Linked DNA regions of Homo sapiens. The protein of the gene in region 3 purifies or fractionates together with the protein of the main gene of each other region. This does not show direct contact. Each region holds a gene or a part of one and is shown on either strand. Other genes may lie near its edges. The genes, in order: PLXNA3, CD109 and SCGB1D1.

What was found.
Region 1: the proteins of SCGB1D1 (region 3) and PLXNA3 purify together in Homo sapiens (co-immunoprecipitation; 3 studies listed by BioGRID and IntAct, with this or other methods). This does not show direct contact.
Region 2: the proteins of SCGB1D1 (region 3) and CD109 purify together in Homo sapiens (co-immunoprecipitation; 3 studies listed by BioGRID and IntAct, with this or other methods). This does not show direct contact.

What each region holds. Positions count from the first base shown.
Region 1 is NC_000023.11:154,461,145-154,464,792, reverse strand, and holds part of PLXNA3 (plexin-A3 precursor), read right to left. Parts: coding exon 3,155-3,648; intron 2,666-3,154; coding exon 2,483-2,665; intron 1,403-2,482; coding exon 1,274-1,402; intron 1,204-1,273; coding exon 1,103-1,203; intron 843-1,102; coding exon 719-842; intron 637-718; coding exon 480-636; intron 392-479; coding exon 292-391; intron 40-291; coding exon 1-39. UniProt on the Homo sapiens protein: Coreceptor for SEMA3A and SEMA3F. Necessary for signaling by class 3 semaphorins and subsequent remodeling of the cytoskeleton. Plays a role in axon guidance in the developing nervous system.
Region 2 is NC_000006.12:73,762,128-73,765,775, reverse strand, and holds part of CD109 (CD109 antigen isoform 1 preproprotein), read right to left. Parts: intron 3,393-3,648; coding exon 3,296-3,392; intron 3,036-3,295; coding exon 2,894-3,035; intron 2,201-2,893; coding exon 2,091-2,200; intron 1-2,090. UniProt on the Homo sapiens protein: Modulates negatively TGFB1 signaling in keratinocytes.
Region 3 is NC_000011.10:62,188,604-62,192,351, reverse strand, and holds the start of SCGB1D1 (secretoglobin family 1D member 1 precursor), read right to left. Parts: upstream 2,137-3,748; 5' UTR 2,068-2,136; coding exon 2,013-2,067; intron 297-2,012; coding exon 109-296; intron 1-108. UniProt on the Homo sapiens protein: May bind androgens and other steroids, may also bind estramustine, a chemotherapeutic agent used for prostate cancer. May be under transcriptional regulation of steroid hormones.

The DNA.
Region 1 (3,648 bases), on a different chromosome or scaffold from region 3:
CAGTGGCAGGGGTAAGGGCTGCCAACACAGGACATGCACCTGGGGGGGAAGTGGCTTCAGAAATAACAGAGGAGGCTGCACTGCCCCTCACTGCTCCCCAATAGGACACATCGGGAACTGAAGGAAGAAGGCAGCCATATCAGGGGACAGAGAGATGTGGGGATGTCAGGGGCTATCAGGGCCTGACAGTTAGCCCCTGATGCCCCAGAAACAGCTGCCCTGAAGGTGTCGCCTGTCCCAGAGGTCCCCTCTATCCCCAGGGGTAGGGACGGGTGCTGGCCAGGTACTCACGACTGGAGGACGCTGCAGTTGTAGAAGACAAAGTCAGCACCGGCAAACCTCACGCCTGTCTCCTTGGAGAGAAGCTGCAGCCGCACAGTGCGGGTGGCCCCTGCAGCAGTCCCGGGGTGGCCGTGAACTCGCTGGGGGTAGGGAGAGGCCCCACTCTGCCCCATCCTGGGCAGCCCCAACCCACTGACCATGCCCCCTGGTAAGAGCTCGGAGCTCCTGGAGGGAGGGTGAGGGGCAGAGCAGTTCACCGGAGGGCAGCAGGACCGCCTCGTTCTCCGCCGCCGCCTCGAAGGCGCAGCTCACGCCCGCACTGAGGTCTGGCACGTTGTGCAGGGTGACGGTCAGCTGGGGGAAGCAGAGGGCTCAGGGCAGGGCGGACTCCCAGCACACATGTGCACACCCAGCCGGGCACCCCCAAGCTGCTCACCTGCACCCCAGGTGACGTCACTGACACATTGTTGGGCCGGACCCGCACCTGGACACACTTGCTCAGCTCCTCAGCAAAGCCGTGTGGGGCAGAGGCGCCCAGACAGGCCCCTTCGCGGCAGCACCTGCACGGGGTCGGGCCAGAGCCGGTCCCGCCACTGCCCCGGGAGGGCCCAGGCCTGTCCAGCTCACAGTGCCAGGCAACAGCGAGCCTTGGCCGCGTCCCCTGGGGCCCGAGGGACGTCACTCGGGGTGGAGGTTCCACTCATTAGCTGGAGAAAGTGGAGGAGGGCGGGGGGAGGCCGCAAGGGCACGGCTGGGTGTGGCTGGCTCCCCCTGGCCAGTGGGGCCCTCCAACTCCCCGAGCAGGGGTCCCCGCCCTCACCTGTGTCGCAGCACACACCAACCACAGTGCGGGTCCCCGGAGCCCAGGCAGGCTGCGCAGCTCTGGTACTGCTCACAGGTCTCCACCGGGAGCTGGCTCACCTGGGGACAGCCACATCAGCACCCAGCCCACCCCCGCCCCACCACCCACCGCCACCCACCACAGGCCCACCTGCTTCTCACTCAGGAGATAGATGTGCCGGTGGTCCGGGCTGAAGAGCAGGTCTCGGAGGATGGGGCTGCCATCCACCACGGGGACTGTCTCATACAGGTGGGCATCCTGGAAGCCATCGACCCGCACCTGAGCCACAAGACCAGCCTGATGCCACCACAGCCTCCTGCACCTGGGACACTGTCTTCTCCAGCCAAAGACTTTGGAGGTTGTGGCTGAGCTGACGTCAGGACCTGGTGGGGTTCAGCACTCACACCCACAGCCCGGAGGCCAAAAAAAGGAGGGTGCAGACGCCAGAAAATGCCCTCAGCAAACAGAAGGACGGAGTGATTCGTGTTGCCCAAGGTCAGGGGATGCAGGGGAGGGGAAGAGCTAGAAGATGGCATTGATTAGGAGAATGAGGTAGTGGCGATGGTTGTGCCACTCTGCAGATCCACAGAAACCCACTGAACTGTGCACTTTAAAATGGGTGAATTGGATAGTACGCGTTCAACAAAGCTGCTACAAAGGAAAAGAGGGTCCCAGGAACAGAGCAGGTGGGCCAGGAGAGTTCATCATCCTTCTCCACAAACCCTTCCCTGCGCCCCCAGACCAACACTTGCCCTCCTGGGGGATGGCACTGCATCTACGAGGCAAGCAGGATGAGAGCACTGCAGTCCCCCGACTCCTACCTATTCAACACGTACCTGAGTGCCCAGAAGTTCATCTCCCCCTTCATGCCAAGCTACCCCCAGATCCCCAATGGAAGCAGCTTCAGCCCCCGGGCCCATGGGTAGGAGGGGAAGGATGGGAAGTAGTGAGCCAAGGAGAGGGCAGGGGCAAGTGGGTCTGTCCCAGGCATAGGGAGGCTTGAGGGGCAAGGCATTTGCTCCCTTGTTCATTCAACAGAGGACCCAGCAATGCTGGCTCAGCCCCAGGCCTGCTCTCGTGGCAGGGAGACTCCACAATAGGTCTGTTCTCTGTCCCCAGAGCCATACGAAGCTGGCAATTCAGTCCACAGTGGGAACTGGCAATGGTGAGGGTGGGCGGCCAAGGGGCGACCCGAGGAGCAGGGCCAGGCGCCTGGGACCCAGCCAGGGAAATCTCCCTCCCTGCACCAGCCGTGTCCTCTCCTGTCCTGTCCTCAGAGCTCTCCCGTGTGTTCCCACCAGCCTTGTCCCATATCTGAGACTGTCCCCACCCCCACATGCCCAGGGCTCTGGGGGCCACCTTCTTCAAGCTGCCGCTGCGCGTGCCAATGAAGACCACAGAGTGCTGGCGGTAGGTGTAGGCGGCCACGCTGGCCATGCCGTCGGTGCTGTCGGCCAGCAGGGGCAGCCCCTCGATCACATGCAGGCCTCCCAGAGGCTGGTTCAACACCAGCCCACAGAAGTTGCCGTTGATCTGCATGGGCTGGTGAAACAGAGGAGGAACCCGTGAGAGTCAAAGCTCCCAGGCGCAAGATGGAGGCCGGCAGTTCCTGTGTCCCAGAAGAGAGCGGGATCTAGAACCCGGTCCCCTCCAGCCAGGACTGACTGCTCGCCCTAGGGTGCTCCAGGAAATTGGTGGCTGCGGAGGGAGACAGAGGAGGGACAGCAGGGAGCGAGGAGCGAAGCCTGGGCCCACAAGACTCTTGTTGGCTCAAGACAAGGGGCAACCGGGAGACGGAGCAAGGAGGAACGAGCTGGGAACGGAAGGAAGCAGAAGTGGGGCACTGGGCAGCCCAGAGAGAGGCAAGGAGAGGGCAGGGACCCCTGGGAGGGAGAAACAGGTGGGAGGGCAAAGGTGCCACTCCCAGGGCCATGGCAAAGCCTGGGACAGGATGACTGGCCGTGAGCCCACGCTGGGCATGGTAGACCTGGGACAGGGCAGAGGACCAGTGTGGGGTGATGAGGGGCTCACGGTGTTGATGCAGGGCAGCTCCTTGTTCAGCAGCCAGGGCAGAGCCAGAGTGCCCTCCCCACGATAGCAGGACTGGATGCGGCGCCGGATGTGGGCATTGATGTTGCTGAGGGTGAAGAGGCAGAGGATGGTCTGCCGGGGTGGGCTGGCCCGGTTCTTCTGGCCCTGAGAGAAGATGGTGAAGAGGACGTCCTCATCAGCCGGCACGCCCAGGGCCTGGGCCAGCAGCAGGCCAGGCTTGGCCAGGTGGGCGCTCTGCACCAAGCGGTACTCCACGCCGCGCCAGGAGCAGCCGATGGGGAATTCCACGTATGAGTAGAACTCTGAGTCTCCCGCGCACATGCGCACGATCTTGGACGTGAAAAATTTCTCGCCCGCTGTGTCCAACAGCGTCTGCTGGGTGTCCAGCTGCAGCGTCAGGAAGTACACGAAGGAGGCGCTGACGAAGCCGTAGATGTAGTAGATGTCAAAGGCAGGGTACAAGGACAGCGTGT
Region 2 (3,648 bases), on a different chromosome or scaffold from region 3:
AACATCACTGATTACTCCCTTGTTAATATTATGGATTCCCTTAACTTCCGCGGCTCCAAAATAACCCCCTTCACTTCCTACCTCTCTTTCTGCATCCTCTCAGTGTCCTTTTCAGTTCCTCTTTCCTCTCCCTAAATGTGGGAATTTTGGACATCTGTTCTTCTCCCTTCCTCCAAGGTCTCAGCAATCCTATTGCTTAGCTTGTCATCTCTGTGATTGTACCCTAAAGCCAAAATTCCCATCCTTGCCCTTCTCTGGAGTTCATGCCCAACACCTCCAGTTACCTGCAGGAAATTTCTACTTGGATATCCTGGACACCTTGAATTCACATATCTAAAATGAGCAACCATGTCATTTTCCTATTTTCGCTAACATCAGGATTTTGCAAGACTTTACATTTCTGAATTTTCCCTCCCTCTCCCCACCCCCCAAATCCAATGAACACCAAAGTCCTATGCTTCTCTCTTCCATCCTCTCCACTCCCACAGCTACCACCACAAGGCTGCCCATCCCCTCACTCCTGGGCTACAGCCATCCTCCTGCACACAGCCTGAGCAGTCTCCCTCAAACACTACCTGAGTGCACCCCGAAATTGCCAGCCAGACCTCTCCTTCTTGTCTCACTTCTTATCTTGCTCCCCACCTCCCACTCCCATGCCCAAGCATTTAAAACACAACTAATCTTTTAAAAAACAGTTTAGACCATCCTCTTCCATAAAGCATCCCATAGTAACCCCCATGCCTATCCCACAGCCAACTCTCCCCCTCTGAACGCCCATGGTTTCACTCTACTCATTCAGAAATTACCATTTGCAGCCTCAATTTTTTAAACTGACCTTTTCAAACTGCCTAAATTAAGATCATTGAAATCAGAAACTACCTGAAACGTCTACCGACCCATTCAACAAGTGACCCCTCCATTCTTTCTTTGTCGTTTTAGTTGTTTTTTTTTTTTTTTTTGAAATGGAGTTCCACTTTTGTTGCCCAGGCTGGAGTGCAATGGCGCAATCTCCACTCACCACAACCTCCGCCTCCCGGGTTCAAGCGATTCTTCTGCCTCAGCCTCCCGAGTAGTTGGAATTACAGGCATGTGCCACCACGCCCGCCTAATTTTTTGTGTTTTTAGTGGAGATGGGGTTTCTCCATGTTGGTCAGGCTGGTCTCGAACTCCTAACCTCAGGTGATCCGCCTGCCTCGGCCTCCCAAAGTGCTGGGATTACAGGCATGAGCCACCACGCCAGGCCTGACTCCTCCTTTCTTTAAATCAGAGATCAGCCAACTACTGCAAGCTGATAGGCCAATCCAGTATGTTTGTAAACAAAGTTTTACTGGAACACATTCCACTCTCACTTATTTATAAATTGGCTATGGCTGCTTTCACACTACAATGGCAGGGCTGAGTAGCTGTGACAAAGACCACATGGCCACAAAGCTGAAAATATTTACTCTCTAGCCCTTTGCAGAAAAAGTTTGGCAACCCCTGCTTTAAATCCCTACAGAAATTAATTTGTAACACTAATCTTAATCTGCCATGAGTTATAGTTAAGTATATATTTTCCTGTCACCATCACAAAAACTGTGAACCTGAGGGTAGGGACTGAGCCCTTCTTGGCTCTATAGCCCTGCCCAACACCATGCCTTGCTCATTGTCAACATTCACACAATTAATGTGTTAATTCAACATTATCTCCAAAAAATGAGATTTGTTGATAATTTTTTAATGTAACATCTTTGTTAGAACTACAATTAATCATTATAAAAACCAAATTGAAATTGAAATTTTTGACTACCATGTAATTATTTCAATTAATTAATAAAAGCTTCAGTGTAGCAATCCACATCTAACTTAAATTGCTTGTAAAAAAAAATACATTTTCAAAAAATATTTTTACTGTTGTTGAAAACTACTTTTTTAGAAAAAATAGACAAAGGTCATTTGGAAACAAATCTACATGCCCCACATGTCTAAAGAGACAAAGTTATATACTTTTTGGCTTAAATTTTTAGAAAAGCATTGAAAATATTATTTCCCATTCTATTTCATTAAGCTGAACTTACTGCTATGGACTGGAAATAAATATACCAACTTACAGTGGCTGTGAAGTTGAGAGATGGCTTCAAGACAGTAGTATAATCAAAAAACTCAATGATGTAATCATGTTGCTTGAAGAACACATTAGTGCTTACATTTCTTGAAATACCTTTTTTGGAAATTGCACAATTTAGAAAGCAAAAGTAATGTTTCACCCAAAGCTTCTATCCACCAAATCTCTCCATCTAACCTATTGCAAAAAGGGTTAAAAATATCAGGGCACATAAGCCTCATTCCCATATTGACTTTGACACTACAAGCACCACACAGTTCTATTATGTTCTCTATGGATCCCCTCTAAGCACCATTGCTGCCATTCTACCGCAGTGACATGTACAACAGCAGCAAATTAAGGCCAATGAAAGAATAGTCTTTTGCTCTTTCAGGGATTGGCTAAAGTTGTTGAAATAGTAACAGAAAGGTCCAAGAAACTCAACTTTATTTTCTTATTAAAAGTGAAAACTGTCTAGGAACAGCTGAGATTTCAGTGATTTTAAAAAGAAGAAGGTTACCAGCTGAAAATGTAAGCCTTTCCATGTAGTTTTCAGGGGGAAAGAGTAGAAATGGAAAAAAAAATTAAGAAGAGCTATCACATGTGGTTGAAGTAGTGACTTTCATAGAAAATAAGGTCCCCCTTATAAAATCATCCTGCAACTTAGACTAACAGTCATAACAATTTCAACATTAAATAGCATCTTTAGAAAGTCAATGATGCTCCCAAATGAAAGTGCCAGTTATAATAAGAAAGATGATAAAGCAGTGTCACATGAATAGTTTTACCTCCACTTTAAAGTCTACAAACCTGTAACTGATTCTGTCACTGTGGTTAAAATTTCTACTGGTCCAGGGGAAGATAGATCCAGGTATTCAGAAAGTCCATTTGAAGAATCCATTACATTTTTCATCTCTTCATCATTAAAAGAGAAGTTTGCAGATCCATTTATCTGTTTTGTTTAAAAGTTCAGTATTATTTACCATTTTAGCAATTCAAATTTTAGAAATAAAACTCAAACTAAGTCACAACAATATGATAGCTCTGGTACCATTTTAATCGCTATAATTGCATAAATTCTCATTTGTTCAATGCTGGAAAGCTCTTGATTTTCTTACACTTAACTTTTTGTTAATTCAGTACTAAATCTTATTTCTAGAAAAATACACATATTTTACCCATCACAAGTTATAAAGTGTCTGCAAAAGTTACCTTAAATGTTTTTGTAATATTTTTCTTCTTTCCCCAAAAGGATAAAGGTAAAAATGTAAGCGTTACGTCTCCTTTCACTGGCTTCCCATATGTATACCTGAATAATTATAAACATAGTCTTTTTATGTATCAACTTGATATTGTCAGAACACAATAAAAATACTACTTTCAATAGCATACATTAGCAATTAGCAATCTAACATTTTAAAAAATTACATTGGGCTGGGAGCGGTGGCTCACGCCTGTAATCCCAGCACTTTGGGAGGCCGAGGCGGGTGGATCACGAGGTCAGGAGTGCAAGACCAGCCTGGCCAACATAGTGAAACCCTGTCTCTACTAAAAATACAAAAATC
Region 3 (3,748 bases):
GCAGGTGCCCCACCACCTGTGTCCCTCACAGAGCAGCAAGCAAGCTGACCTCACTTCACACTGTGCCGCTGACCAGAAGCCTGGACACATGAAAGAGACAGAAATTACCAATGTTTTTGTAATTAGCACTCTTTTCTCATAGGCCATCGTATCCACGCATTTCTTCACTTCCATCTTGGCTGCAACAGCTTCCAGAGGTGCCTTAAATTTGGCAAGTTGGAACTTGAACACAGGTTTTCCAGCTAATAAGAAGCCTGTGATTTCAGAACCAAGAGCTTGGCAGACCACTGCATTTGCTGGAGCAAAAGAATAAAAATATAATTTGTGTAAGGAAATCAGTGTTTCTCCCATGCCTCCCTGATGTCAGACCAGACAGGAACCCCAGGGTTTTAGGCTTCTATTCAATAACTATGCCAATGACAATGTCAGACCCAGGAGGTTGTGACTTCCTTGAGGTCACACAGCAAAGGGTAGAGCTAGAACTGGAGAACCAACTTCCTGATCACTCATTCAGTCTTTGTTTTTTTTTTAAAGCACACTCATTACTTTCCAAAGCTTCTCTGGATGGATGGCCAACGTTCTCTTTTCTAGATTTGAAAATAATCACTTTTCTATGCCAGTTAAGTGACACTTTATTAGTCTTGGACATTGGTGAAGAGGAGGCTTTGAGTAATCAAATTTTGAAGTGGAATGGTAGAGTCAGAATCCTATCAGAAATTAGAGAAATGAGTAAATCTGGAACAGAAGAAGTTAAAATTATTGAAATGTTGAAGGTGATGTTTTGAGAACAAGTTGTAGAATTTAGGCTTATGTGATTCAATACAGACAGAGCTAAAAGGTAAACAAATTAAAACAAAATAAAATAATGTGAATCAGTTTTAACACACATTAGAAGCTTATACAGGAAATTGTACTTGGCCCATATTCTGCAGCAGCATCTAGAATATTTGGAGAGGATGAGAGGAGGGAACTGAGGCTCATTCCTGCTCCCACTGGGAATTTTGGAAAGACCTGGAGTAATCATTTTGCTTGGTCTGGAATCTCCATTCACCTAAGTCTTTTGCAAACACCATGCATCCAGAAAGCGCCCCACCATGCTCAACATGACCCCTGACTACCCGACTTCAAACTGTGGGGAGAATTTGGAGAGGGTAGGATCGGGGTGTCACAGGGAAACAGGGAGAGGTTCAGAAAAGAAGAGGAAAGAGAAAAATCAGAGTCTGGATCGGTCCTGACAGGGGAAAGGAAAGTACCCAAATGAACTGGGGAAAAATCAGCCAGAATTAATTTTAGAAAAATAGAAGTTCTGAGGCTAACCATTGTAGTATTTCTACCACCATTACGGTAGGACCCCTAGAAGATATATTGAGTGCTGCTTATTCTAAGAATTCATTTGCAGGCTTCTTATTGAGAGAATCAGAAAGCACCATCTCTTCTTGGACTGAGAGTTCTCCAAGGATCCTTCGAGATGTAACATTTTATGAGTCTGAATTTACAATGTAAGAAGCTGTGAGCTCAATTGGCACCTAAAGGTCTGGGGACGAGAATGTCTGACAGTACAGTGATTGGCTTCACATCCACAGCTAGACCCTTGGCACAATAATCCCACTCCATTCCCATTGCCACTCCCGGAAGAAGCTCTAAGCACCAGAGATAGGAGGAGGCGCGGGGAGGGTGAGCATCTTGCCCACGGTGAAAGGGCTGAGAAGTGGCTGAGCCCAGAGTCACCCCAGACCTCACATTACATCATCTGACACAGATCCCATCCAAGAGTGAAGCTCAGGCAGAATTCCTAACGTTCGCCTGCATTGATTTTCTGCAAAACTTCCTAGGTACTGGGGATTTGATGAAATGAGGCCCGAGCTTTATGAGCAGTTCCTTCAACAAGCACAGGATAAGGTTTGGAATTTTGGTTTGTTCCAGACCCCAACCTTAACCTTAATAGGTGACCTCGTGCTCAGAGAAGGGTGTGTCCCAAGGGCTGGTGCTGGACTCATGACTGATGTACTCACCCCGGTAGCAGCAAAGGGCCAGCGTGAGCAGCAGGAGACACACCGACAGCCTCATGGTGGCTTATTCTGCTGTGAGCTCGGCTTTAACCAATGATGAGTGATTTAGACTCAGCCCCGGGAGCCTGTGGAGCCGTGGAGCCCAGGGCTATTTGTACCTAGGGAGCCTGGCTGGTCCTGCCCACATGGGCATCTGGCAGGTGATGAGGCCTGGCTTCCAGCCCTCCCTTCCTAGCCAGGGCTGCTGCCATCCATCAGTGTCACATCCCCACACCTCCCTGCATCCTGAGTGGGGCGGAGCACGGGAGGGCAGCCCTGCAGAAACTCTGCTCTGTGCTCCAGGTGAGTGTCCAGGTGCCTCTGGCAATGTTCCCTGGAACCTCAGTTTGCTTTTGGGCTTTTGAGGATTATCTCTCTGTTCTTTATGTCAGTGCAAGGGCAAATGTGAGTTCTCATTTCAGGAGGACAGAAACCGGGGGTGCAGGAAGCTAGGGGCTGTGGTTTGGTTATAGGAGAGCAGGCACAGAAGAGACCCCACTTTGACCTCCACTGCATGTCTGACAATCAGCCACACGTGTTTCAGCTGCACATAGATCAAGTCTGAACCAGACCTATCCTCCCACTCAGCCCCTTCCATCCCCACCATCTTCACCACATAGGTACCTAAAACATAGCTGCATACACCCCACCTTTGGAGGATTTCCTTGGGGAAAACAACCACTCCCCCTGTCCTCTACTCTGTCTCACTCCAAGATCTGTGTCTTTATTTATGGGTGGAGTTGTCAACATAGCACAGGTTCAAATTTTCTGTCTACTAAAAGCAAGCCTCCAGTGACCTCTAGCCACCCATATCTCCTCATAGGGCTGATGGGATGATTAAATTGCCCAACTTTTTTTACCCAAGGAGCTGCTGGGGTGTCTGGAGGCAAACAGGCATCAGAAATACTGGTCTTCGCTTCTAGGCAGGGACGATAATGGAAAGGAAGAGATGGATGAACAGGGTGGGTGGTCACTTCCCTCTAACCTCTGGGCTCAAGTTTTCCACTTCTAACCCAGCTCTGCTGCCTGGGTCATCTCATTGTTGATGGAAAGCGAAGGCCATCCCCAGCAAAAGCAATAGACACCCTTCTGCCCTTCCACTGCAGTGCCATCATTTGGTGAGTAGGAAATCACCAGAAATTTGGCTCTTAAGTGAACACACATTTGAGAACAGTCACAGCCCAGGCCAGAGCTTTCCATTCTCTGCTCTGCAATCAAATCACTTGGGGCTCTTAAACTATACTGACTCCCCGCAGGCTGCTTCCCTTTCTGGGGATTTTGATTCAGTAGTTCTAGGGCGAGGTCCTCTTCTGTTTAAACTGCTCTGGTGGGTCTGATGGGCAGCAGTACTGAGAACCACCCAGAAAGACCTTTATGAAGGAAGCGGACCTTATGGTCTGTGTCATCAGAGACACCTTGGCAGGTCTGGCTGAGTCCCAGCTGAGGGCGACAATGCCTCTCACTTCCATCACCCAAAATGGTGGGGAAGCCCCTGATGCCACCTCTGCCTCCAACCCTAAGGAGTGGAAGGTCCAGTGGCAAAGCCCATGGCTAGGAGGGTTCAGATCCATGTCTATGGGCTATTGAACCCTCTGAAAATTAGTTTATGTAAACACAGTTTTCTCGTTTGTAAAAGTAGGTTAAAAATGGTGCCTACATCATTGGGTTGATAGATGTTCAAATGAGTGTGTGTGTGTGTG